7 linked regions of the Homo sapiens genome follow. The protein of the gene in region 3 purifies or fractionates together with the protein of the main gene of each other region. This does not show direct contact. Each region holds a gene or a part of one and is shown on either strand. Other genes may lie near its edges. The genes, in order: INPPL1, TRIM25, TPD52L2, PPM1G, CTH, TARS1 and GABPA.

The links.
Region 1: the proteins of TPD52L2 (region 3) and INPPL1 purify together in Homo sapiens (affinity purification with mass spectrometry; 2 studies listed by BioGRID and IntAct, with this or other methods). This does not show direct contact.
Region 2: the proteins of TPD52L2 (region 3) and TRIM25 fractionate together in Homo sapiens (co-fractionation; one large-scale study listed by BioGRID). This does not show direct contact.
Region 4: the proteins of TPD52L2 (region 3) and PPM1G fractionate together in Homo sapiens (co-fractionation; one large-scale study listed by BioGRID). This does not show direct contact.
Region 5: the proteins of TPD52L2 (region 3) and CTH fractionate together in Homo sapiens (co-fractionation; one large-scale study listed by BioGRID). This does not show direct contact.
Region 6: the proteins of TPD52L2 (region 3) and TARS1 fractionate together in Homo sapiens (co-fractionation; one large-scale study listed by BioGRID). This does not show direct contact.
Region 7: the proteins of TPD52L2 (region 3) and GABPA purify together in Homo sapiens (affinity purification with mass spectrometry; 2 studies listed by BioGRID and IntAct, with this or other methods). This does not show direct contact.

The regions. Positions count from the first base shown.
Region 1 is NC_000011.10:72,231,267-72,234,766, reverse strand, and holds part of INPPL1 (phosphatidylinositol 3,4,5-trisphosphate 5-phosphatase 2), read right to left. Parts: intron 3,270-3,500; coding exon 3,152-3,269; intron 2,528-3,151; coding exon 2,431-2,527; intron 2,142-2,430; coding exon 2,003-2,141; intron 1,893-2,002; coding exon 1,793-1,892; intron 1,693-1,792; coding exon 1,604-1,692; intron 1,327-1,603; coding exon 1,245-1,326; intron 1,113-1,244; coding exon 1,023-1,112; intron 487-1,022; coding exon 373-486; intron 241-372; coding exon 152-240; intron 1-151. UniProt on the Homo sapiens protein: Phosphatidylinositol (PtdIns) phosphatase that specifically hydrolyzes the 5-phosphate of phosphatidylinositol-3,4,5-trisphosphate (PtdIns(3,4,5)P3) to produce PtdIns(3,4)P2, thereby negatively regulating the PI3K (phosphoinositide 3-kinase) pathways.
Region 2 is NC_000017.11:56,904,050-56,907,549, forward strand, and holds part of TRIM25 (E3 ubiquitin/ISG15 ligase TRIM25), read right to left. Parts: intron 440-3,500; coding exon 206-439; intron 1-205.
Region 3 is NC_000020.11:63,878,770-63,882,269, reverse strand, and holds part of TPD52L2 (tumor protein D54), read right to left. Parts: intron 1-3,500.
Region 4 is NC_000002.12:27,389,092-27,392,591, forward strand, and holds part of PPM1G (protein phosphatase 1G), read right to left. Parts: intron 1-3,500.
Region 5 is NC_000001.11:70,428,268-70,431,767, reverse strand, and holds part of CTH (cystathionine gamma-lyase), read right to left. Parts: intron 1,975-3,500; coding exon 1,917-1,974; intron 1,452-1,916; coding exon 1,374-1,451; intron 1-1,373. UniProt on the Homo sapiens protein: Catalyzes the last step in the trans-sulfuration pathway from L-methionine to L-cysteine in a pyridoxal-5'-phosphate (PLP)-dependent manner, which consists on cleaving the L,L-cystathionine molecule into L-cysteine, ammonia and 2-oxobutanoate.
Region 6 is NC_000005.10:33,450,965-33,454,464, reverse strand, and holds part of TARS1 (threonine--tRNA ligase 1, cytoplasmic), read right to left. Parts: intron 2,125-3,500; coding exon of another isoform or gene 2,026-2,124; intron 1,177-2,025; coding exon 1,053-1,176; intron 1-1,052. UniProt on the Homo sapiens protein: Catalyzes the attachment of threonine to tRNA(Thr) in a two-step reaction: threonine is first activated by ATP to form Thr-AMP and then transferred to the acceptor end of tRNA(Thr).
Region 7 is NC_000021.9:25,765,972-25,769,465, reverse strand, and holds part of GABPA (GA-binding protein alpha chain), read right to left. Parts: intron 463-3,494; coding exon 234-462; 3' UTR 1-233.

The sequences.
Region 1 (3,500 bases), on a different chromosome or scaffold from region 3:
ATACACACACACACACACACACACACACACACACTCTCTCTCTCTCTCTCTGCTGGCCCCACACTCCCTCCCAGGCAGGCTCTCCAATAAACTCTTATGTACCCCTCTCTGTGCCCTCACCCATAAGCAGGGGCCCTGCCCACAGCCTCACCGTGGGCAGCTGGCGTGAAGACCACTGCACTTTGAGGAAGTTGATGTTGTCACTGCTCTGGGCATCATTCTCAAAGCTCTTCTTGTATTCTGGGGTGGGGGTGGGAGACACCCAACTGAGCACCACCTCTCAGCTTCCTTTCCCCCTAAGTAGGGGGCTGACTGCACCCTCTTGCCTCCCATCCTCCTTGGCCCACACCCAGCCCCTGCCACGCCTCTGACCCTCCAGGCAGGTAGAGTAGAACTCGATGAAGAACTTGGTGCGGCTGGCTGTCTTCACAATGGCCTCGATGCTCTCAAACTCAATGTAGGCCTGGTCTGAAGTCTTTGAGAGCCCTGAGGAGAAAGGGAGGAGAACAAACAGGAGGACTGAGAGGATCACAGGAGGAATGGGACAGAGAAACAGGGCCCTGGGACAGGAAATCAGGGGTCCAGAGCAAGGAGGCAGGGCCAGGAGGGGCCTCCCCAGTCCCAAGCCACCAACAGGGAATCTCCAGAGGCCAGACCCTGGACCAGAGCAAAGAGACAACCCAAGGATAAAAAACCCATTGAAGAGGGTGCTGGGGACCAGAATGCCTGCAGGATTCCCACACCTACAGGCATACTCAGGGACACACACGTGGCCCTAGACAGACACAGACACATAGATAGGTGTACACTCACGTATGCACACACACTCATGGGCACACAACTCTTGTGATGGCCCAGGCGCACAGACACCCTGACACATCACACCTTGAGAAACACTCCTGCACTCACTGGTACACACACCCACACACACACTTACATAGTCAAACCTATGTACATCCCGAGGCCACCACCTGTGCCCACCTAGATTATGCCACACCCACAAGCATATCTGGAACAGTCACCTTTCTTGGAGATGAACTGGGAGGTAACTCCAACCTCAAATGTCCCAAACACGGGGGAATGGTCGCTGGTGACGATGTCATCAGTGCAACCTGGGGAGAGGGGATAGGAATGGGGACTCAGGGGGAATATTCCCACCCTCGGCTCCCACCTCCCAAGGTTAGGGCAGAGTCCAGATGGTGACCACCCCAGATCTCCCATCACTCTGTCCGGGAGGCTCTGACCATAAGAATTGCAGATGATGTGAGTTTCAGGGTAGGATTTCCACAGAATCCGGTCACACCATGAGGGCACATTGGTCCGGACCTGGGGCAGGGGATGGCAGCATGGTTAGAGCTGACAGCTAGGAGGCTGCTTGGCATGGACCCCACTCCAGAGCTGATGAGTCCCCACACTTCTATTACTAGAGGCCCTAGCACCCACCTCCCTTCTTGGATCCTCAAAATACCCAGGATCACCCAAAGGCCTCAGAGGGGCCATGGAGGCTGGAGTGGAAGCTGCAGAGGCCCATACCCTTGACCCAAATTCTTGATTCATCGCAGGCCTGCGGTCCCCCAAGGCCCATGCCGTTTTCTTGGCTCACCCCAGTTGGCTTCTGCTTGTGCCAGGCATATGTGTCCCGGGAACCCCGCTCATAGCGGTAGGTGGGTGGGAAGGAGATCTCCTCCTCACCTAAGGAAAGCAGGAGACAGGTGGGGTTCAGGGCCCTGACACCCAGGGATACTGCAAGTCTCCTAGCCCTCAGATCACCACCTACCAGGCCCACACTCACTGAATCGAAGGAAGACCTTGTGCTTCTCCCGCTCCAGGTTGAGCTGGTCCACCCTGAGGAGGGGCTCAAACTCTTTCCTGCTGATGTAGTTCAGGATCTCCTGGGGTGGAGGACACAAAGGCTAGAAACATTCCTCCGGAGCCAGAGCCAGGGGTGATAGCCCATGTGGCCCTTAGCCTCCCTACAGCCATGGCAGGGCCCTGCTCGCACCTGGATATCCATGTCCAGGCGGTAGTTGAGGTCCCCAAACCAGAAGAGGTGTGTGAAACGCAGAGAGATGTCAAAGGCATTGAGCTGCCGGTCGCCCAGCGAGAGCAGCCGCAGGATGTCCAAGTAGTTTTGGTTCCTCCTAGGGTGAGGGGTGCGTGGTGGGGAGGGGTAGATCCCCAGGGTCAGGGCCAGAAGTCAGGGATAGGCATAAAGGGAAGAAGTCTCAGGAGTCAGGGATGGGGTAAAGATCCGGGCCCCTGGGGACAAGGTTAGGGTCAGGAACAGAAGGGTCTTGAATTGGGATAAGAGAGCAGGGGGTCTCTGGAGACAGGCCTGCGGGAGGGTCATGGGCTAGGGTATGGGAGCGGGAACAGGCCTCAGGTGAATGGGATGGGTGTAAAGAGACCATGGGAAAGGCGCCCCCTCACCGAGCCGTCTTCTCATTTCCCGAGGTGAGGTGACAATTCACAAAGCCAAATGAGGTGCCATTAAACATGAAGGAGACGCCCACAGCCCCCTTGTTCCCTGTTAAGGCAAGCAAGAGAGGAAGGCCTGGGTCATCCTCAGAGGGCTCCCAACTCTCCCTTCTGCCTCTCAAAGCTGCAGTGAGAGGATCCTCCCGCTGAGCCCACCAGACGCTGTGACATGGGCAGGCCCCTGCACACACCCACACCTTCCCTGGGGGAGGGGGGGGTCCTCATTGGGCACACATGGTCTGTGTGGATGGCCTGAGTCTGTCTGTATGTGTGAGCAGAGCCCCTGGAGATCACAGGGGACCCCAAGGGTGAAGCTGAAAGGCCCTGCAGATTCTGCGCAGAATCTACCTGGGAGAGCACCAGACCGAAAATCAGGAGACCTGGGCACAATGCCTGGCTCCACCACTTACTTGCTGTGTGACCTTGGGCAGGTCACTCAACCACTCTGGGTTTGAGTTTTATCATCTGTGAAAAGGGGGTAATTATCCTGGCCTTGCCTTCCCAGTGGTGCTGGGAGAGATTTAGAATATGAATATGTTTTTCAAAGTTCAAAGTACCCTATATATGGGGAAACTAAGATCACCAAAAATGGGGCAATCCTAGGCTTGAGAGGAAGCAGAAGCCATGGACAGAGAGACGCTGCCACTCTTGGGCACCTGCCAGCCCCACTTACCCAGGGTGTTGGCGATGCCAGTCTTCACACTGGACGTACTGACATGGCTGATACGGTTCTCGTGCTCTGGCTTGACCAGCACTGCCACCTTGATATTCCACAGTGATTGCATGGCAATCTGGGTAGAGAGTGCATGGTCACCACTGCCCTGCTGCACCCACTGCCTGCATTTCCCCCTGCACTATAAATAGACTTTTGTGTCCATCACAGGGTAGGAAGGCTTGCCACCCCTCTTCCTGACGGACTGGAGAGAAATGGTTCCTCTCGTGGCATGAAGGACTCAGGTCAGATCTCCCAAAGGATATGCTCAGGGACCAGAGAAAAAGCCAGTGAAGCTGTGCTCCCAGGG
Region 2 (3,500 bases), on a different chromosome or scaffold from region 3:
TCTGAGAGAATAAATATGTGTTTTTTGAAGCCCCTACATTTGTGGTAAGTTGTTGCCCAGCTCAGAAAACTAATACAGCGTGTGTCTCAGGGATGCTTCCAGTGACCTCTTCCAGTCTCCCGCTCCTTGAGGGCCCTATCATCAACAGCATGACATCAGGCAAAAAAAAAAAAAAAACATTCAACAATGCCTTGTGGCGACCTACCTCCAGAAACTCGAACTCATCCCTCTTGGTCAGGCTCTGTTCAATCTCCTCCTTCAAGGTCTGGATCTCACTCTTCTTCTTGAGGAGAATCTGATAAATGGTGTCAAACTTGCTGTTGACCCTCTTCTCCTCTTCCTTTATCTTCCTTGTCGAGGTGGTCTCTGAGGCGTCCAAGAGAGCCTTCATTTCCGTGTATTCTTGTTGTAGCTGCTCCACCTTTCTGTTTGCAGTCATCTGAGAGGGCCAAGGTAAGAGGATGCCCGTCAAAGGGGCAAAAGTGCTAAGGCTGCAGCCCCAAGCATGGGTGAGATGTGGAGTTCCAGGAACTCTTACCTGTACTTTGTGGGAGAACAAACCACTGTGGGGAGCAACTTGGCAATATCTAATAAATTTGGAGGTGCTCATAGGCTATGACTCGGCAACTCCAGTCCTAGGAATATGTGCTACAAAAAATTGCAGCCACCTGCCCCTGAGACATGCATAAGAATGTTCACAGGCAGCATTGTCTGAAGTAGCAAAAACCTGGAATCAACCTGAACATCCATCAGAAGAAGACTTGAAGCAAAGACTGGGAGCTATTCATAGGATGGAATATTAAACAGTTATGAAAATTAATAAACTGGAGCTATGCCTGGATAAATCTCCATGAGAGAAAAACAACTTGCAGAAGAAGATCCACCATATGATGCTCTTTCAATAAAGCTTAGAAACAAACAGAATGGCTATATGCACAAAGAAACGCATGGGAATGAATAAATAAATTCAGGAGAGTGGTTACTTCTGGAAGAGAGGAAGAGGGATAGAATAAGGGAGAAACAGATGGGAGGGGCTGCATCGATGATATTTTATTTCTTAAGCTAAAGGTGGTTCATGGGCAATTTTTAAAAATAAAAGTCAGCAAGAGATCAAGACCATTCTGGCCAACATGGTGAAACCCCATCTCTACTAAAAATACAAAAATTAGCTGGTTGTGGCAGCGCGCACCTGTAGTCCCAGCTACTCAGGAGGCTGAGGGAGGAGAATCGCTTGAACCCAGGAGGCAGAGGTTACAGTGAGCCGAGATCGTGCCACTGCACTCCAGCCTGGGAGACACAGCGAGACGCTATCTCAAAAAAATAAAATAAAATAAAACAAAACAAAAAGTCAGGATGCAGCTCTGGAAAATTTCTAGAGAATATCATGCTCTAGGATTGTACTTTCCAATAACATAGCCACTTGCTACATGTGGCTACTGAGCACTTGAAATGTGGTTAGTCCAAACTGAGACTTGCCATGAGTGTAAAATACATACTGGCTTTCAAGGGTTTCACACCAAAAAAAGGAATGTAAAATATCTTAAAACTTTTAAATTGATGATATGTTGAAAGAATAATATTTAAGATATACCAAATTAAATAAACTATAATATTAAAATTAATCTCAGTCAAGTGCAGTGATTCATGCTCATAATCCCAGCACCTTGGGAGACCGAGGCAGGAGGATCGCTTGAGGCCAGGAGTTCAAGACCAGCCTGGGCAACATAGACAGACTGTTTCTCTACAAAAATAAAAATAAAAAAATTAGATGGACTGTATTCCTGGAGAGTGGGGGTGGTGAAGGGGAGTAGGCTCAGTCAGGAAGATTACTTGAGCCCAGGAGTTCAAAGCTGCAGTGAGCTATGATTGTTCCACTGCACTCCAGCCTGGGTGATAGAGTGAGACCTGTCCTAAAAAAGATAGATAAATAAAATACAATAAATCTCATGTACTATTCAAATTAACTTAAAATGACATCTGCACTCCTACTGTATTTCTGCTGGACAGCACTGCTTTAGTAGCTGCAATTTTGTTTCACATCTTGGGTAGCCTCAATAGCTGCTATGGTTTGAATGTCTCCTCCAAAGCTCATGCTGAGATTTAATTGCCACTGAGGTGATTAGATCACGAGGGCTCTGCCCTCATGAATGGATTCATATTCTTATCACAGGGTTTGACCTCCTTCTTCCTGTCCCGCTCTCCTGCCTTCCATCCTTCCGCTATGGATGATCCTCACCAGATGCTGGAAGCATGCTCTTGGACCTCTCAGGCTCCAGAACTTTGAGCCAAATAAACTTCTCTTCTTTGCAAATACCCAGTCTGTGGTATTCCGTTATAGCAGCAGAAAACAGACTAAGACAATAGCTCAGAATCAAACATAACAAAGAGAAAAACACACAAGAAGGACAGTAGACTGGAAAAGAGGAATTCAAGTATTTCTTCGCCAATATTTTTTTTTTTTGAGATGAAGTTTCACTCTTGTCACCCAGGCTGAAGTGCAATGACATGACCTCGGCTCACTGCAACCTCTGCCTCCCGGGTTCAAGTAATTATCCTACCTCAGCCTCCTGAGTAGCTGGAACTATAGGCATGCACCACCACGCCCGGCTAATTTTTTGTATTTTTAGTAGAGATGGGGTTTCGCCATGTTGGCCAGGCTGGTCTTGAACTGCTGACCTCAGGTGATCCATGCGTCTCGGCCTCCCAAAGTGCTGGGATTACAGGCGTGAGCCATTGCGCCCAGCCTTCTTTGCCAATCTTTCACTGTGCAACTTCTAATGTGACTACAAGTGTCCCCCAGTGTTCATTTTCCCTTTTTTCCTTTTGGTAAGAGAACATCCCTGGAGTTTCATCTGGGCGTGTGGCTACTCAGACTACATTTCCCAGCCTCCCCTGCAGCTAGACTAGGCGATGTGACAAAACTCCTTCCAGTGACCCATGCCCAGGAGTGATATGTGCAACACTGTGTCACTTGTGTAAAGGAAAATTGCTTGTTGTCCTCCACCTCCTTTTTGTCCCTTTGTCACAGGCTAGAACAAAGATGTAATGGTAACCCAGCTTCAACCAAAGAGGCTGGGACAATACCTTGTGGAATAGTAGGGTAATAAGAAGGGAGAACCCTTAATCCCTGAATGATCACATGAACCCTTAGTCTGGGTTACTCATGTGTGGGTTTGGACTGTCAGTTGGTAAAATAAACTTCAATCATATTTAAGCCTCTGAATTCTGGTGTATCTTTGTTACAGCAGTATAGCCTGCCCTCTAACAAATACAGGTACTTTCACGTGCATTCTTTCATTTGTCTCACAGTCATCTTCAGAAAGAACTTGTGATTCCATTGTGCAAATTGGGAAACGAAGGTTCAAAGATCTGTCAACATGACCAAAGCAACATAAACTAGTATGTGACAGAGCTGGTATTCTAACCTAGATCTCATCTAATGAAACCATAACTGCTGCAATAAAACTGGTGCTGCAGCTCTGAAAAAGGGTAAAAATCTG
Region 3 (3,500 bases):
TGCCCTGACCGGCCCATGCGTGCAAGTTTCCCTTTCCTCTTCCCAAATGAGACTGTGCTGAGGGGAGAAAATGCAAGCTCAACCACGTCTGTGGGGAACGAGCGTCACAGAGTGGCCATGCAGCCCGCAAGGTGCCCCTGCTCCAGACGGCGGGGCCCCGTGTGCCTTCAGAACATCGGACAGTTCCATTCCCAGGCCTCTTTTCACAGTGCAAGGGTCTGTCCTGGCCCCTAGTGAAGGCCCCGCTTCTATCCCCTCCAGCTCCCTCCAGTGTCCACCCACATGGGTACATCCCATCAAAGCAAAGCTCTAGGGCCTTGGCGTCTGCAGGACAGGCAAAGGGCAGCAGGCAGGATGCTGTGGCTGCAGGGATACTGTTGGGCCCACCATGACAGTCAACACCTGAAGTCGCTGGCCCTCATCCAGCTGCCACCATAAACACAAAACACAGCAGACTCTGACATAACAAAGTCCAAAATGCGAACCCACAGCCACCTTATCACGGCTCCTCCCTCAGTGAAGCCAGGGAACTCGAGGCTGAATGGAGATGGGCTCCCAGGACCATCTTGGCGTTACCAGTGCCAACCTGGAGAGCTGGCAAACCCAGCCAAGCCCTGAGTGGCATCTGGGATGACTGGCGCCAGAGAAGGCACAGGCTCCTCCTGCTCCCACTGGCGGCACCAGGTCCCAATGATGGGCCTTCCGGAGCCCTTACTCACAGGCCCTCCCACCACTCCCTGCAGAAGGCCCGTGTGAGCTGAGTGCTACTACTCTCCAGCCCCCAAACAGTTGACAAGAGTGTGTGACCCACCAAGTGTGCCCTGGCAGCGCATCCCAGCGCAGCTCTCTCATGCCCGCCCCCGGCCCAAGGCCTACCAGAGGATGCACTTTCTTTCTTTTTTTTTTTTTTGAGACAAAGTCTCGCTCTGTCACTCAGGCTGGGGGGCAGTGGTGCAATTTCAGCTCACTACAACCTCCGCCTCCGGGTTCAAGAGATTCTCCTGCCTCAGCGTCCCAAGTAGCTGGGATTACAGGCACCCACCACCACGCCCTGCTAAATTTGTCTTTTTAGTACAGATAGCGTTTCACCATGTTGGCCAGGCTGGTCTTGAACTCCTGACCTCAGGTGATCCACCCGCCTCGGCCTCCCGCAGTGCTGGGATGACAGGTGTGAGCCACTGCGCCCAGCCCGCTCGGATGACAGGTGTGAGCCACCGTGCTCAGCCCAGAGGATGCACTTTCCCATCCAGGCTCCGTGCAGCTGGAATCATGGCTGTTTTTAAATTTTTTCTTCTTTTATTAATAAAACACCAGTTATAAGTAACTAATGACCTGCTATATTTAGTTTCAAAAACACAAATTCTTTTTTTTTTTTTTTTGAGACAGAGTCTTGCTCTGTAGCCCAGGCTGGAGTGCAGCAGCACCATCTCGGCTCACTGCAAGCTCTGCCTCACGGGTGCACGCCATTCTCCTGCCTCAGCCTCCCGAGTAGCTGGGACTACAGGCGCCCGCCACCACATCCGGCTAATTTTTTTGTATTTTTGGTACAGACGGAGTTTCACCGTGTTAGCCAGGATGGTCTCGATCTCCTGACCTCGTGATCCGCCTGCCTCAGCCTCCAAAAGTGTTGGGATTACAGGTGTGAGCCACCGTGCCCAGCCCAAAAATACAAATTCTGAAGACATCTTTAACCTTGATTTTCCCTGAAATAACAAATGCATAAAACCATGTGAACATTCTGTGGTTCGCTGAAGCAAAGTCACCTGCAGCAGAGGATTCTAAAGCGCTCACAGCACCTGCATTTGTGCCTAAAGAGTGGGGATGGGGAAGCTGCACCTGCATTTGTGCCCTAAGAGTGGGGATGGGGAAGCTGCACCTGCATTTGTGCCTAAAGAGTGGGGATGGGGAAGCTGCACCTGCATTTGTGCCCTAAGAGTGGGGATGGGGAAGCTGCACCTGCATTTGTGCCTAAAGAGTGGGGATGGGGAAGCTGCACCTGCATTTGTGCCCTAAGAGTGGGGATGGGGAAGCTGCACCTGCATTTGTGCCCTAAGAGTGGGGATGGGGAAGCTGCACCTGCATTTGTGCCTAAAGAGTGGGGATGGGGAAGCTGCACCTGCATTTGTGCCCTAAGAGTGGGGATGGGAAAGCTGCACCTGCATTTGTGCCTAAAGAGTGGGGATGGGGAAGCTGCACCTGCATTTGTGCCTAAAGAGTGGGGATGGGGAAGCTGCACCTGCATTTGTGCCCTAAGAGTGGGGATGGGGAAGCTGCACCTGCATTTGTGCCTAAAGAGTGGGGATGGGGAAGCTGCACCTGCATTTGTGCCTAAAGAGTGGGGATGGGGAAGCTGCACCTGCATTTGTGCCCTAAGAGTGGGGATGGGGAAGCTGCACCTGCATTTGTGCCCTAAGAGTGGGGATGGGGAAGCTGCACCTGCATTTGTGCCCTAAGAGTGGGGATGGGAAAGCTGCACCTGCATTTGTGCCCTAAGAGTGGGGATGGGAAAGCTGCACCTGCATTTGTGCCTAAAGAGTGGGGATGGGGAAGCTGCACCTGCATTTGTGCCCTAAGAGTGGGGATGGGGAAGCTGCACCTGCATTTGTGCCCTAAGAGTGGGGATGGGGAAGCTACACCTGCATTTGTGCCTAAAGAGTGGGCATGGGGAAGCTACACCTGCATTTGTGCCCTAAGAGTGGGGATGGGGAAACCGAAGTTGGAGAGAAAACAACCGCCTGTGCCCGGCCTTCAGAATGAGATGTGGGGTCCTGAGCGTGACCTGTGGGTGGGTAAGTACCACCCACACAAGGAGGATCGGAATGAGATGCGGGTCCTGAGCGTGACCTGTGGGTGGGTAAATGCCACCCACACAAGGAGGAGGGTCCTGAGGGTTCCTGGCCACTGACCACTGGCCACTGACACCCGGTGCCACTGTGATCAGTCCCTGCTGTGCCATAAACCACACTCAAGCCCCTGGGGGCCCCACAGCCCTCAGCATTGCTCGGGTGTGGAAATGAGGGGGTCACAAGGGAACCTCCTCTAGAAACAGGAACCTCCAAACTGGGATGGCCCTGGAAACAATGGGCATCACCTGCATAGCCTGAGGCCACCACCAGCGCCTCCCTGGCCTTCTCTTCCTACAGCAGGTCCCTGCCCAACAGCTGTGGCTCTGACCTCTCCCTTCCCCTTCTCAGTCCCATCCTGGGCCTCCAAGGTGGCGGCAGCAGCTGTGAGGCCCCCTTCCAAGGCTCACAGCGCTGCAGGCCTGTTCTGAGAGCGTCAAACACACAGGCACACACATTCCTCAGTGGACCAGAAGGCTGGGTTGTTATTACTCCATGACAGATGGGGAAGCTGAGCCCGGGAGGAAGGGGCAGGGGTCAGAGCCAGCATCTGCACCCAATAACTAGCTTCAGCTCTCCTTGAGAGCACCGGGCCGGGCAACCCCAGCCAGCACCCATTTGGGAGTTCCTAAGACCTTCTAGGAAGAGAGCCCTGGA
Region 4 (3,500 bases), on a different chromosome or scaffold from region 3:
TCTGGTCAGCTACCTTATGGTGTGCCTCAATTTTATCCTCTGTGATGTGGAATTACAATATCCACCACATCCACATCATCACAGAACTGTTGTAATGATGCAAAACACATAAAAGCCCTTTGTAAACTGGAATTTGCTACATAAAAATATATATATATATACACACACACATACACATATATGTATATTCTGCTCTGAAATTTAGCACCCATTTCACATTTTTCTTTTTTGTTCTTTTTCTCAAAGAGGACCACCCACAATAAAGATTCGTCTTACACCTTGAGGTCTCAGTCCTGAGAACTATCGCACAATTACCCTCTCCTTCACTTCTTGGTGAGGCTTGGGATCTATATTATGATTTGGAACTGTTTCACCTTCCCTAAACACTTTAATTTGCCCCCTTTACATGTCTGCTCATAACCTTTACCCACACCTTTGCTTCTCTCTATCCCTTACTGAGACAGAGCCAAGTATTTCAACATGGTCTCTTAGAAATCTAGAAAAACTCACCCAACCTTGTATAACCCCACCAACTGATTTATGCCTGAATCAGAACTACTAAGTTTGCTAGTCATAAAATGTTATGAGATTGGCTAGGTGCGATGGCTCACACCTGTAATCCCAGCGCTCTGGGAAGGTAGGCAGGAGGACTGATTGAGATCAGGAGTTGGAGACCAGCCTAGGCAACATAGCAAGACCCCGCCTCTACAAAAAAATTTTAAAGTTAGCCAGGCATAGCAGCATGCACCTGCAGTCAGTCCTAACTACTCGGAACACTGAGGCAAGAGGACCACCTGAGCCCAGGAGGTGGAGGCTGCAGAAAGCTATGATGCACCACTGCACTCCAGCCTGGGTGACAGAGGGAGACCCCATCTCTAAAACAAAACAAAGTTATAGGATCACATTGACTGTGGTAATTACTTCATTTCAGCATCTTGTTTTCTTTTTTTTTTGAGATGGAGTCTCCCAGGCTGGAGTAGAGTGGCGCGATCTAGGCTCACCATATCCTCCACTTTCCAGGTTCAAGCAATTCTCCTGCCTCAGTCTCCTGAGTGGCTGAAATTACAGTGGGCACCTGCCACCACGCCCAGCCAATTTTTGTATTTTCAGTAGAGACGGGGCTTCACCATGTTGCCCAGGCTCTTCTCAAACTCCTGAGCTCAAGTGATCTGCCCAGCTCGGCCTCCCAAAACGCTGGGATTACAGGCGTGAGCCATTGCAACTGGCCAAACACAGAAATTATCCTCTCTTCCTAGATTAACATTTTTTCTTAAACTCCTGATCTCAAATCCTTCTCCTTCAAGGTCTTACTACACAGAGAATGTAATAACCTTAACAGCAATCCAAATAGCCGTTTTGGCAATGGCTCATGCATGTAATCTCAACATTTTGGGAGGTCAAGGCAGGAGGACTGCTTGAGGCCAGGAGTTCAAGCCTGGGCAACATAGTGAGACCTCATCTCAACAACAACAACAACATCCGTAAACAGCCATTCTGCAGACTTCATTTCCCCTAGCCATTATGTCAGATTAAACAGTACAAACCATGTCAGTTTTTTTTTTATTTTTCAATGTTTATTTTAGAATCACAGAATACATGTGTAAGTTTGTTAGAAAGGTATACTGTGTGATGCTGAGGTTTGGGGTATGACTGAACCCGTTTCCCAGGTGCTGGGTATAGTATCAAATAGGTAGTTTTTCAGCTGTTCCTCTGCCACACAACCCCCACCCCCACCCTGCCGCACCACCACCTCTAGTAGACCCATGTCTATTGTTGCCATCTTTACATCCATGTGTACTTGATGTTCAGCTCCCACTCTCACTGCGTGAGAACACGCAGTATTTGGTTTTCTGTTTCTGTGTTAGTTTGCTTAGGATAATGCCCTCCAGCTACATTCATGTTGTTGCAAAGACATTATTTCATTATTTTTAATGGGTGCATAGTATTCCATGATGGCTATGTACCATATTTTCTTTTCTTTTCTAGTCCGCCACTGATGGGCACATGAGTTGATTCAATGTTTTTGCTATTGTGAATGGTGCCACAATGAACATACAGGTACATATGTTCTTTTGGCAGAATGATTTATTTTCCTTTGGCCGTATATCCAGCCATCAGATTGCTGGGTCTAATGGTAGTTCCACTCTTAGTTCTCTGAGAAATCTCCAAACTGACTGTGCCTACGCTAAATTAATTTACACCTTCACCAACAGTGTACAAGTGTCTGCTTTCCTCTGCAGCCTCACCAACGTTTCTCATTTTTTGACATTTTAACAAAAGCTGTTCTGACTGGTGTGAGATGGTATCTCTTTGTGGTTCTAATTTGCATTTGTCTGATGATTAGAAATGGGCGTTTTTTCATGTTTGTGGGCCACATGTACGTCTTTTGAGAAGTATCTGTTCATGTCCTTTGCCCACTTTTTAAGGGGGTTATTTGCTTTTTGCTTGTTAGGTTCCTTATAGATTTTGGATATTAGACTTTTGTTGGATGTATACTTTGTGAATATTTTCTCCCATTCTATAGGTTGTTTACCCCCTTGATAGTTTCTCTTGCTGCATGTCACTTTTCTTGAAAGATCTCTTGGATTCTGTGTAGTTCTATACCTCTGACTGCCTGTTTCTACAGGATGTTCTTTTTTTCTTTCTTTTTTTTTTTTTTGAGACAGAGTCTAGCTCTGTTGCCAGGGTGGAGTGCAGTGGCGCGATCTCGGCTCATCACAACCTCTGCCTCTCGGGTTCAAGCAATTCTCCTGCCTCAGCCTCCTGAGTAGCTGGGATAACAGGCACGCGCCGCCACGCCCAGCTAATTTTTGTATTTTTAGTAGAGACGGGGTTTCACCATGTTGGCCAGGATGGTCTCGATCTCCTGGACCTCGTGATCTGCCCACCTTGGCCTCCCAAAGTGCTGGGATTACGGGTGTGAGCCACTGCACCCGGCCAGGATGTTCTTTCTCTCTATACCTCAAACTTAACACATGTAATCAGGAAATCAGCAGTCTGCAAAAAAAAAAAAATCAAGAGCTTCCCCTACAGGTCTTATTTCTGTAAATGGAATCTTAACTCTCCCAGACAACACTTAATACCAGAGTCATGCTTAACTTCCTGGCTGTCTTCCACCATCCATCACTGAGTCCTGCATGCAGTCCTTCATCATGTTGTTGTTCCTGGATTACTTTGTTTTGTTGGTTTGTTTTGTTTTTTTTTTTTTTTTTTTTTTTTGAGAGAGAGAATGTCTCCCTGTCACCCAGGCTGGAGTACAGTGGCATGATCTCAGCTTACTACAACCTCCGCAGCCCAGGTTCAAGTGATTCTCATGCCTCAGCCTCCCAAGTAGCCGGGATTACAGGTGTGTGCCACCATGACTGGCTAGTTTTTATATTTTTAGTAGACACGGGGTTTCACCATGTTGCCCAGGCTGGTCTCAAACTCCCGACCTCAGGTGATCCTCCCGCCTCAGCCTCCCAAAGTGCTGAGATTTAGGCATGAGCCACTACGCCAGC
Region 5 (3,500 bases), on a different chromosome or scaffold from region 3:
ACCTTGTATTTCTTTGAAAAATTATTTTAACATACAGAGAAAAACAGCAGTTCAAGTCCTATTATTACTGAATATTCTACTAATATTCTATTTAGCCTTTGTGCAAAGCGGTCAATGATTTCACATGCCTCCAGGATATATACTTCATTTCTACTTTTTATAAACCAAAGGACACTTATCAAGCAATAAGTTTCAGTTTCCCTTGTGGAGGACATTTTTATTCCTAATCATGTTTATATTTTACCTGTCAAGTTACAATGGCTTAATCTTTAACTATACTGGAGATAAACTAAGCAATGTAAATAGGAAATGGTGTTTAGACATCTATTGAAAAATGTAAGTTTATACTGTAAGTGCTATTTAAAATTAACCATCATTCGTGATATAAAAGGTATAGTATATGAAAGCCCTCATTTCAAATGTAATTTTAAAAAAGAAAAAAAAACCATTAAGTCTTGAAACTAAAAATTCACTAGGGCTTTATCAAATTATGATTATAATTAAGATGGACATGAAAATAAAAAAACTCATTTCTTATATCATATCATAAAGCCTTGCTATGCTATAACCGTTTTTGTTTTTTGTTTTTTGAGACAGGATCTCACTCTGTTGCCCAGGCTGGATTGCAGTGGCACGATGTCAGCTCACTGCAACCTTCGCCTCCCAGGCTCAGGTAATCCTCCTGCCTCAGCCTCTGAGTATCTGGGACCACAGGCACATGCCACTGCACCTGGCTAATTGGTTTGTATTTTTGGTAAAGACAGGGTTTTGCCATGTTGCTCAGGCCGATCTCAAACTCCTAAGCTCAAGTGATCCACCTGCCTCAGCCTCCCAATGTGCTGGGATTACAGGCATGAGCCACCGTGCCCAGCCTGCAATAACTATTTTTATAACACTTTCCTCTAAAATCAGAAAAAATTTTTTTGGCCAGGCACGGTGGCTCATGCCTGTAATCCCAACACTTTGGGAGGCCAAGGCAGGTGGATCACCTGAGGTCAGGAGTTTGAGACCAGCCTGGTCAACACGGTGAAACCCCGTCTCTACTAAAAATATAAAAAATTAGCTGGGCATGGTGGTGGGCACCTGTAATCCCAGCTACTCAGGAGGCTGAGGCAGGAGAATCGCTTGAACCCAGGAGGTGGAGGTTGCAGTGAGCTGAGATCACGCCACTTCACTCCCGCCTGGGCAACAGAGTGAAACTCCATCTCAAAAAAAAAAATTAATAAATAAAAAAAATCAGAATTTTTCTCCTCTATTTTTCATTTCTTCATAAATTATTAGAATGCCATCACTTCACATCACTTAGTGGAAATACAAATATCAAATGTAGTCACTGAGAGTGTCATAGGGAACCTGCACTTTTTAATACTTACAGTTTTGCAAGAAACGAAGTCTATTATGAAGGCTTTCACAATTAACAGACACCAGGCCCATTACAACATCACTGTGGCCTAAAAACAAAAAACAAACAAACAAACAAAAATTTCAGTTAGAAACAATTTATGTTTACTCTTTATTTTATAATTTTCAAAATGTGATTTTCACTTGAAAAAACTCTCAGGGAAAAAGCTCTATAAAATAAGTTTAAGTAACCTTTATTCAACTGGACAGTAGCAAAAGCTATGTCTAAAACAAGAAAATAAAAATTATATAAAAACAAAATGTTTCTTTAAGGTGTCAGCAAGATAAAAGCATAACTTTTTATGGCCAACTTTAATCCTCTTCTCATAAATCATGAGCATAGTTTTGTGTACTGTTAATGAAATCCTACATTTAATCAAAGGATTTTTTTTTTTACTCTCTCTATGAGTCACAGGAAATAATCTACAAAATAATCAAAGAAAAGGGATCAAAAGCCAAGCCCTATGCAATTTTCACCTATCCATGAAAAAGAACATTCAAAGTATGCATCTTACCATTCATGTATTTTGTTGCAGAATACATAGAAATATCAGCTCCCAGAGCCAAAGGGCGCTGAAAGAACAAGTTTTTTACTTTAAATGAGAAACAATTTGAAAATATGCTTCATTACCTGCCTATTTGCAATTATAAATTCCATTCTTATTCTAATCAATACTAACTTTGCAAAAGTATGTGCATCTTAAAATTTTCCAGGATCTCTGATATTATTTCTCCTTTGCCTCCCTCCCACCAAAGAAAAATGTAAAGTATTGAATCCAGTATTGAATCTGAAGGCAAAAGTTTCTTGGAAAGCGCAGATAAGCCCAGGTCAACTGGTCTCTTGAACCTGTTTCTTTATAGCAATTGCTGACAGGACTCTAAATTTATTACCTACAGTAGAGACTCTAGTATTTTATGACTCATTAAACACATAAAATAGTTGAAATGAACATTCAGCAATTTTTATGTAGAGTAAGTATAAACTCATCTGCTTAGATTTTTAATCATTAAAACCTCATGACGTATGCTGTGATTATTTACATTTGGGGTTTGTCATGATCTTGATTCCTAATTACTCAGCCCTTCCTATGTGTGGGTTTCACATCCATGGATTCAACCAACCATGGGTAAAAAAATACTTGGAAAAATAGATGAACAGTTGTGTCTGTATTGAACATGTACAGACTTTTTTCTTGTCATTAGTTCCTAAACAATATAGTGTAACAACCATTTATAAAGCATGTACATTGTATTAGGTATTACAAGAAATCTAGACGGCTGGGAGTTGGAGAATGGCTCACTCCTGTAATCCCAGCAATTTAGGGGGCTGAGGCAGAAGGATCACTTGAGATCAGGAGTTTCAGGCTGCAGTGGACCATGATCAAGCCGCTGCACTTCAGCCTGAGTGACAGAGCAAGACTTTATCTTAAAAAACAACAAGAAAGAAAGAAATTTGCTGGGTGCGGGGGCTCATACCTGTAATCCCAATACTTTGGGAGGCTGAGGTGGGTGGATCACTTGAGGCCATGAGTTTGAGCCCAGCCTGGCCAACATGGTGAAACCCTATCTCTACTAAAAATACAAAAAAATTAGCTGAGCATGGTGGCACGCACCTGTAATCCCAGCTACTCAGGAGGCTGAGGCAGGAGAATCACTTGAACCCAGGAGGCAGAGGTTGCAGTGAGCTTTTCATGACACCACTGCACTCCAGCCTGGGTGACAGAGCAAGATTCTGTCTCAAATAAATAAATAAATAAATAAATAAATATGTCTGAAACTGGGAGAATTAAGAAAAATAAAAATGAAAAGGAATTTTTAAAAGTGTTTTCTTTCACCCAATTTTCCTGTAAATTAATCCTTTAAGTCATGGAGTATAATGTGATGCTCAATACATGTGTAATTGTGTAATGATCAAAAGCAGGGTAATTAGCATGCCCATCATCTCAAATATTTATCATTTCTTTGTAGTAGAAACATTTAAAATCCTCTCTCCTATTTTGATATATACAGTATCTTATTGTAACTATGATCATCCTTTTGTGCAGTAGAACACCAAAACTTATTCCTCTATTCCTCCTTCTAATTGTAACTTTGTACCC
Region 6 (3,500 bases), on a different chromosome or scaffold from region 3:
ATGACAAAACACGAGGACAAACATCTGTACACTGAAATCAAATGGCAGTACTTGGTTTTAAAGTAATCACTGGGATGAGTCAGAATACACCCAAAGCAATGTTTTCAAGATTTAGTATTAAGGTACCAAAGTGACATTAAAAAATTCTCGTAAGAAACTTGAGGGCTCCAAAATACATTTGAAAACCACTAATCCACATACATAAGTGAACAATCATCACTAAAACAAAATACTTTGTCTCCCCTTATATGATACACAGCCATGGAGAATTAAAAAGAAAATCTTGTCATCACATGCAGGTTGACTTTTATAGTGTTATCCAGCAGATTTGCATCTTAAGATGAGAAAAAAATACAGAAATTATCCAATAAAGGCAGTGCTTTGAAGTAAGGTTCAAATTTATTTGTCAAATGTACATATCTTGCTAGAGTGTTCATAGCTTAGAGGCCAGGCACAGTGGCTCACACCTATAATCCCAGCACTTTGGGGGGCCGAGGTGGGCAGATCACTTGAGGTCAGGAGTTCAAGACCAGCCTGGCCAACATGGTGAAACCCCATCTCTACTAAAAATACAAAAATTAGCCAAGTGTGGTAGTGCGCTCCTATAATCCCAGCTACTTGGGAGGCTGAGGCAGGAGAATAGCTTGAACCTGGGAGGTGGAGGTTGTACTGAGGCAAGAGCGCACCACTGCACTACAGTCTGAGTGACAAAGCAAGACTCCATCATTAAAAAAAAAAAAAATTAAAATAAAATAGTGTTCACAGTTTAGAAAACAATTTTTACTTGCTTAATCAATGTTTAATACAATTCCCAAAACATTTTCCCTATTGAAGTGTCTAGTAATGAAAAGACTTATTCAGCTTCACCCCTTTATTTTCTAAGGCAAGCACTTTTATTATGTTCCCTAAATGAAGGACAAAATGAAGATTTCAAATATGACAGTGAGACAACAATAAATGTTAGCCACCCAATCGCAGCAGGACTGAGCTGGAAAAGACTTCAAATGTGAATCTGCATCCTAAAATTCAATGAATACTAATCAGCAACTTACTGCCTGAGCTTCCTCATCCTCAAACTTGAGAAGCTCCAAGGTACAATCTTCTTCCAGAGGGCGGTCCAGGTCCCACACAACATTATTTACTTTAGCAATAACGGTGTTGTCGGCCAGGCCTTGACTTAAAAAAAAAAAAAAAAAAAAAAGTCCACACATATATAAGTACACACGAATCTAATTTGAAAACAGGAAAATAAACACTATTTTTATTATATATTGTTTTTTTATATTGATGTATCTCTATTTTTCTGAAATATAATGATAAAAACAACAAATTCCAAAAATGTACCTAAGAACCTAACTGGAAGATCCTGAAAATGCAGAACATTATCATTTGACATTGAATGCCTCCTGTTTAAGCAGATATGGCAACTCTGATAAATAAGCACTATCAATTTCCAATGGTTTGAATAATCTTAATTTCTCCAACAAATAAGTTTTTTTTTTTTTAATTTTTTAGCGACAGGGTCTTGCTATGTTGCGCAGGCTGGCCTCCTGGCCTGAAGCAATCCTCCAACATCAGCCTCTAGAGTAGCTGGGACAACTGGCACAAGTCACCACACCGAGTTTTCTCTTAATACACCCACCTTTCTCTTTCTACAAAGCTAAGCTATGTAGACTCCAAAGGAAAAAAAAAAGGCCTACTAAATAACTTCTCTGTTCCTCTTCCTGCTTAAAATGTACACCAGATCCTTTCTTTGACAGACAATGCTAACCTCAGAATAAATTCTGCAAATGCCTATGATAATATTTATAACAAATATAGAGGTAAAATGAAAGACTATTTAATAAAACTTTCCATATAATGTGAGTAAAAACATTACACACCCAATATACAACATCGAACATAAAGTATCATCAAGTGATGAAATATCAGAGCACACAGAGTGTAAAAGCTACAGGAGTTCTGAGGAGGGAAAGCAGTACAGGTCAGAGTCATCTGGAAAGGCTTTGAGGATAAAGCACTCACAGGAAGAAAAGAGGAGGCCATGGCATTCCAGATGAGGGAATGGCCACAGATGCAAGCAGAGATGCAAGTGAAGAGAGGTTTTTGCAGGAAGCTGTGTGACTAGAGCAGAGTTGAGTAGGTGAGCCAGATTATACATCTAAATGCACAGCTAGAGAAATAATAGTCTATAACAGCCTGGACATCTCAACGAAGGTAGGCAACATTCTACACTGTGAAGAAAAAGTATACACCCTTTACACTGTAAATCTCAAAGAAACCTACCACTAGAAGGCTTTAAGCTAGCCAGGCTTGCTGTGTTGGTGGCTCTCTATGTCTAAGGGTTTACAACAAAATGTATACAACTCCTATCTGAGGATCAAGAGAAAAGAACCAAACAGAAAGTAAACAACAAACTCCTTTCTATTTTCAATGCTCCTACTAACTTTACCATAGGTTATAAACAATGTTTTCTTTCCTCCTGAGATCAGATGGAGTCAATAAAATAAATACATGCATTTCACAAAACATAACATGAATTTGGCAGAGAGAAATGTATTTCATCATATTGGTGTAAAACAGTTTTCAGGAGATTAAAGAACTGATAAAAAGGATAATCATATTCTCTATATTCTTTGGGAAGAACATGACTTTTATCTTATGATCCAATATGGAGCCCCAAGATTCTAAGAATAGAGTTACTCTGAAAATGTAGATTACACATGGGCCATACTGGATCATTTCAATTTTTCAAAGAAGGGTAAAATAATCTTTAAGATTTGTAACAAAACGGCCAGGCGCAGTGGCTCACGCCTGTAATCCCAGCACTTTGGGAGGCCGAGGCGGGTGGATCACGAGGTCAGGAGATCAAGACCATCCTGGCTAACACAGTGAAACCCCGTCTCTACTAAAAATACAAAAATTAGGCAGGCGTGGTGGCGGGCGCCTGTAATCCCAGCTACTCAGGAGGCCGAGGCAGGAGAATGGCGTCAACCCAGGAAGCGGAGCTTGCAGTGAGCCAAGATGGCGCCAATGCACTCCAGCCTGGGCGACAGAGCGAGACTCCTCCGTCTCAAAAAAAAAAAAAAAAGATTTATAACAAAACTTCAAAGAAAAACCTTTTGACGCAAATGGAACATGTCTTTTTTGTCCTTCCCTTTCATATTCACCACTAATTATGTGAATCTTTAAATAGCCTGTTATCAATGTTATAATTTTTCACAGAACAAAAAGTTATTCTGGACTTTTGTAAAAATTTCATAAAGTATTCTCAGTGCAGATCAGTGACTTAACTCCAGAGCTAAAGCCCATCAATGTTTTATGTAATTCAACCTTTTATTTTTTTCCCTGGAGACGGACTCTCGCTCTGTCACCAAGGCTGGAGTGCAGTGGCTCAATCTTGGCTCACTGCAACCTCCACCTCCCGAGTTCAAGCTATCCTCCCACCTCAGCCTCCAAGTAGTTGGGACTACAGGTGTGCGCCACCATGACTGGCTAAT
Region 7 (3,494 bases), on a different chromosome or scaffold from region 3:
TGCCTTCACACTGCAGACATTGTGGAGATCCTTTAACATACACATATTCTAAAATATATGCTCAAAGTAAAAAGATCCAAATTCACAAGAGTATGAAATATTTATAAAAAAATCATGCATCAGACTGTACAGCCTAGAAATAAAAGAAGATTCAAATTCAGTAATAAAGGTAAGAGCTATACTTGCTCTAAACATTTTAAGAAAGACTTTGGAGTCTCAGAATGTCCTGGGGCTCAATTATCCTTTTCCGTTTGCAGAGAAGCAGTAGCCAGAGCTACTGCTGTGACTGGCTGGGCAATTCCATGGAGCTGCATCTTTGCAAGTTTCTTCTGTTCACATTCTGTGACCAAACGGTTCAACTCCGCTGCACTGTATCCAATAAGAGTCTTCAAGTCACAGACAAACTTGTACACAAATCTCTTGCCTTGAACTTTACAAATCATGTCCCCATCGTAATAATATCTTCAAAAAGAGAAAAAAAAATTAGAGACTTCAGAAAAAATGAGACTTCTTACAATAATTTACAGACTATTCCATAAGCAGAAGCCTAGTAGAGTACTGCATCCGCCACAATAGCAATTAATATTGAAGCTATGTAGAATATTTAATGCTACTATCAAATGAAACATCCCAACATTATTTACTAAAATTTCAATGCTCACTACTCCAAAACTCTATACATTAAACTTTCAAAACATATTTTCAACAATTAGAATAAAACATTGATTTAAAAATAATTATTAAACAAAACAAAAAACCTTGAGAGCAGTAGAAGAGCCTAAGAACAAGAGCTTTGGAGTCAGAAAGCCAAGATTCAAAACCTAACATTTTTGAGACCACAGGAGTCATATTTTCTCAAAGCTTTTATTCCTCATCTATAAAGTGAGGTTAACAGTGCTTATACCCTCATATCATTGTTGAGGATTAAAGGGATAATCTTTGTAAAGTGCTTAGTATACAATGACTGGCACACAGCCCTCTACAAAATATAAGCTATGTTAATAAAAATCGATAATATAAAAAAAATTAATACATATATTCCACTTCTTTTCTGTCTTGTAAAGAATCCTATATGATGAAGTCATGTCTTCATCTTTATTATTTCACTATGTAAACGCTTTCCAAATTTCAGATAAATTATCCAAGCCCAATAGGGAGCTTTAAGTCTAAGGAAAAGGTCTAAAAGAAACAGAGGATACAGAAAAACAGGTAAAGGACATTGCAAAGAGACAATGTTTCTAAACGTACACAAGCAGAGTTCCGGCAATCATTCTAGAAATCTAGTTTACTGCTGCATTCTATAGAGATGCAAATGGAGCTGGATTTATGTTTCCTTTGGAAAACAGACTTTATTTAAACACACACTATGTATTGCTAATTCCAACAACAGGAAAAAGAGGCAAGTCAAGCTCTTTCCACGACTGGCAGATTGCAAAGCCCTTATTTTAAAATTGCACTGCCCACTGACAAAGGGCTATTATAAAAGAAACAACTATTTGCAAAAGTACCAGATATAAACTATCACATTTAGCAGGATAAAAGTCACTTGGCTTAATCAAGAGTCTATTAATGAAAGGACTGACCTATATACAGGAAATTGTCATCTTTCCCTAATTCCAGAATAGCAAAAGAAAAATAGTTATGTTTGATTTCCCAGTAAGAGATATAACACATTGGGCAGTCTTGTAGTTTCCATTTATGTCAATTACATTAGTACAGAATTTGGATTTCAGCTCATAAACCAACAATTCCTTGCCATCCAGTTAAAAATGCTATAGGCATATCAATTGCTTTAAAAAATTTCTACATTAATATGTAAGACTATACGTGGGGAAAAAAAGGAAAATGGAAAAGGAAAGAGGTTTTATAATTCTAGGAGGAAAATGGAGTTGGCATAATCATATTTCTTGGTAAGAGGTGATAAAAAAGAATATACACACATAAATTTGAATTTTACTGAATACTTCTTTTGATCTAGTAGATGCATCACACAACTGTATATAGTAGCATTTATTCCACTTGTTGCCTCCCTAAAATGAAAGATACACAATACCTGTATTTCATGGATATGATTTCTTTTCTTCCCTCTTTTTTTTTAAACTTGTATTTTTTTAAACTTTTTAATTGCAAATATATCACACAAACAAAAGGACACAGAAGTGAACAGTTCAGTGATTTATTACAAAGTGAACATTCACTCACCTGTTAAGTATCACTCAGGTCAAGAAACAGAACACTGCCAGCATCTAGAATCCCCTTTATGTCCCCTCCCAATCACTCCCCAAATCCTGGCTCTAAAAGGTAAACACAAGCCTGTATCATGATAGTAATTTGACTGCTTTTTCTTTATATTTTTATCACCCAAACATGCATCCCTAAATACTGAAATTTAATTTTCCTGTTTTTTGAACTTTACTAAATAAATGTAATCATACAGAATTTGGTCTTTTGGGTCTGGATTCTGTCACTGAACATTATGTTTGTGAGGTTCACTGGTCATTGTTTGTAGCAGGAGCTTAGTTTTCAAGAATGCAAGGTATTCTTGTATGAATATACCATAAATGATTCATTCACTCTACTGTTGATAGATATCTGGTTGTTTCTGGGGTTTGGATGTTATAAATAATCTGCTATGAACATGTGTATGGGCATAGAAGTACATCTCTGTTTGATGTGTATGAAACAGTTGCTTAGGGGAGCAACTGTTACAATTTACATTCCTATCAAAAGGGTAGAAGCATTCCCATTGCTCCATATCCTCAACAGAGCTTAGTTCTGGCAATCTTTTAAATTGTAGCCACTCTAGGGGGTGAGTTGTACCATTTAATTATGGTTTTCAATTGCATTACTCTGAATACTAATGAGGCCGTACACCTTTGCATATATTCATTGGCCATTTGGATAATCTCTAGCCTGAGGTGTCTATTCAAGTCTCTTGCCCATTAAAAAATTGATTTGTAAGAATTGGTTAGATATTCTAGATACTTCTGTCCGACATGTGTGGCTCTCTTAATAAGGCTTTCAACGAACAGAAATTCCTAATTTAAATATAGTCCAGTTTATTGATCTTTCCCTTTAGAATTAGTCCTTTTGATTCTGTTTAAATGTCTCCCTACCACCAGAAGTTATGAAAGTATTTCTAGATCCTTTTCTATTTTACTTTTTACATGTAGAGCTACAAGCTACATGGAATTGATTTTTGGTACGGCATAAGCAAGAGGTCAACTTTTACTTTTCCCCAGAGATGGAGAGTAAATTATCCCAGCACTGATTATTGAAAAGCAGGTCGTTTCCTCATATGTTTTCTCCCCACTGCCATTTCTTTAAATCAAATGCTTACATATTCCTGGTTCTATTTTGGCTCCCTATTCTACTGTATGGCCTATTTGTCTTGAGAAAATAGCATAACTGTCTTATTACTGTAACTTTAGAGTCAGTCTCAATATCCTGTGGGACAAGTCTTTCCACTTTGCTAATCTTCAGGTGTCCTGACT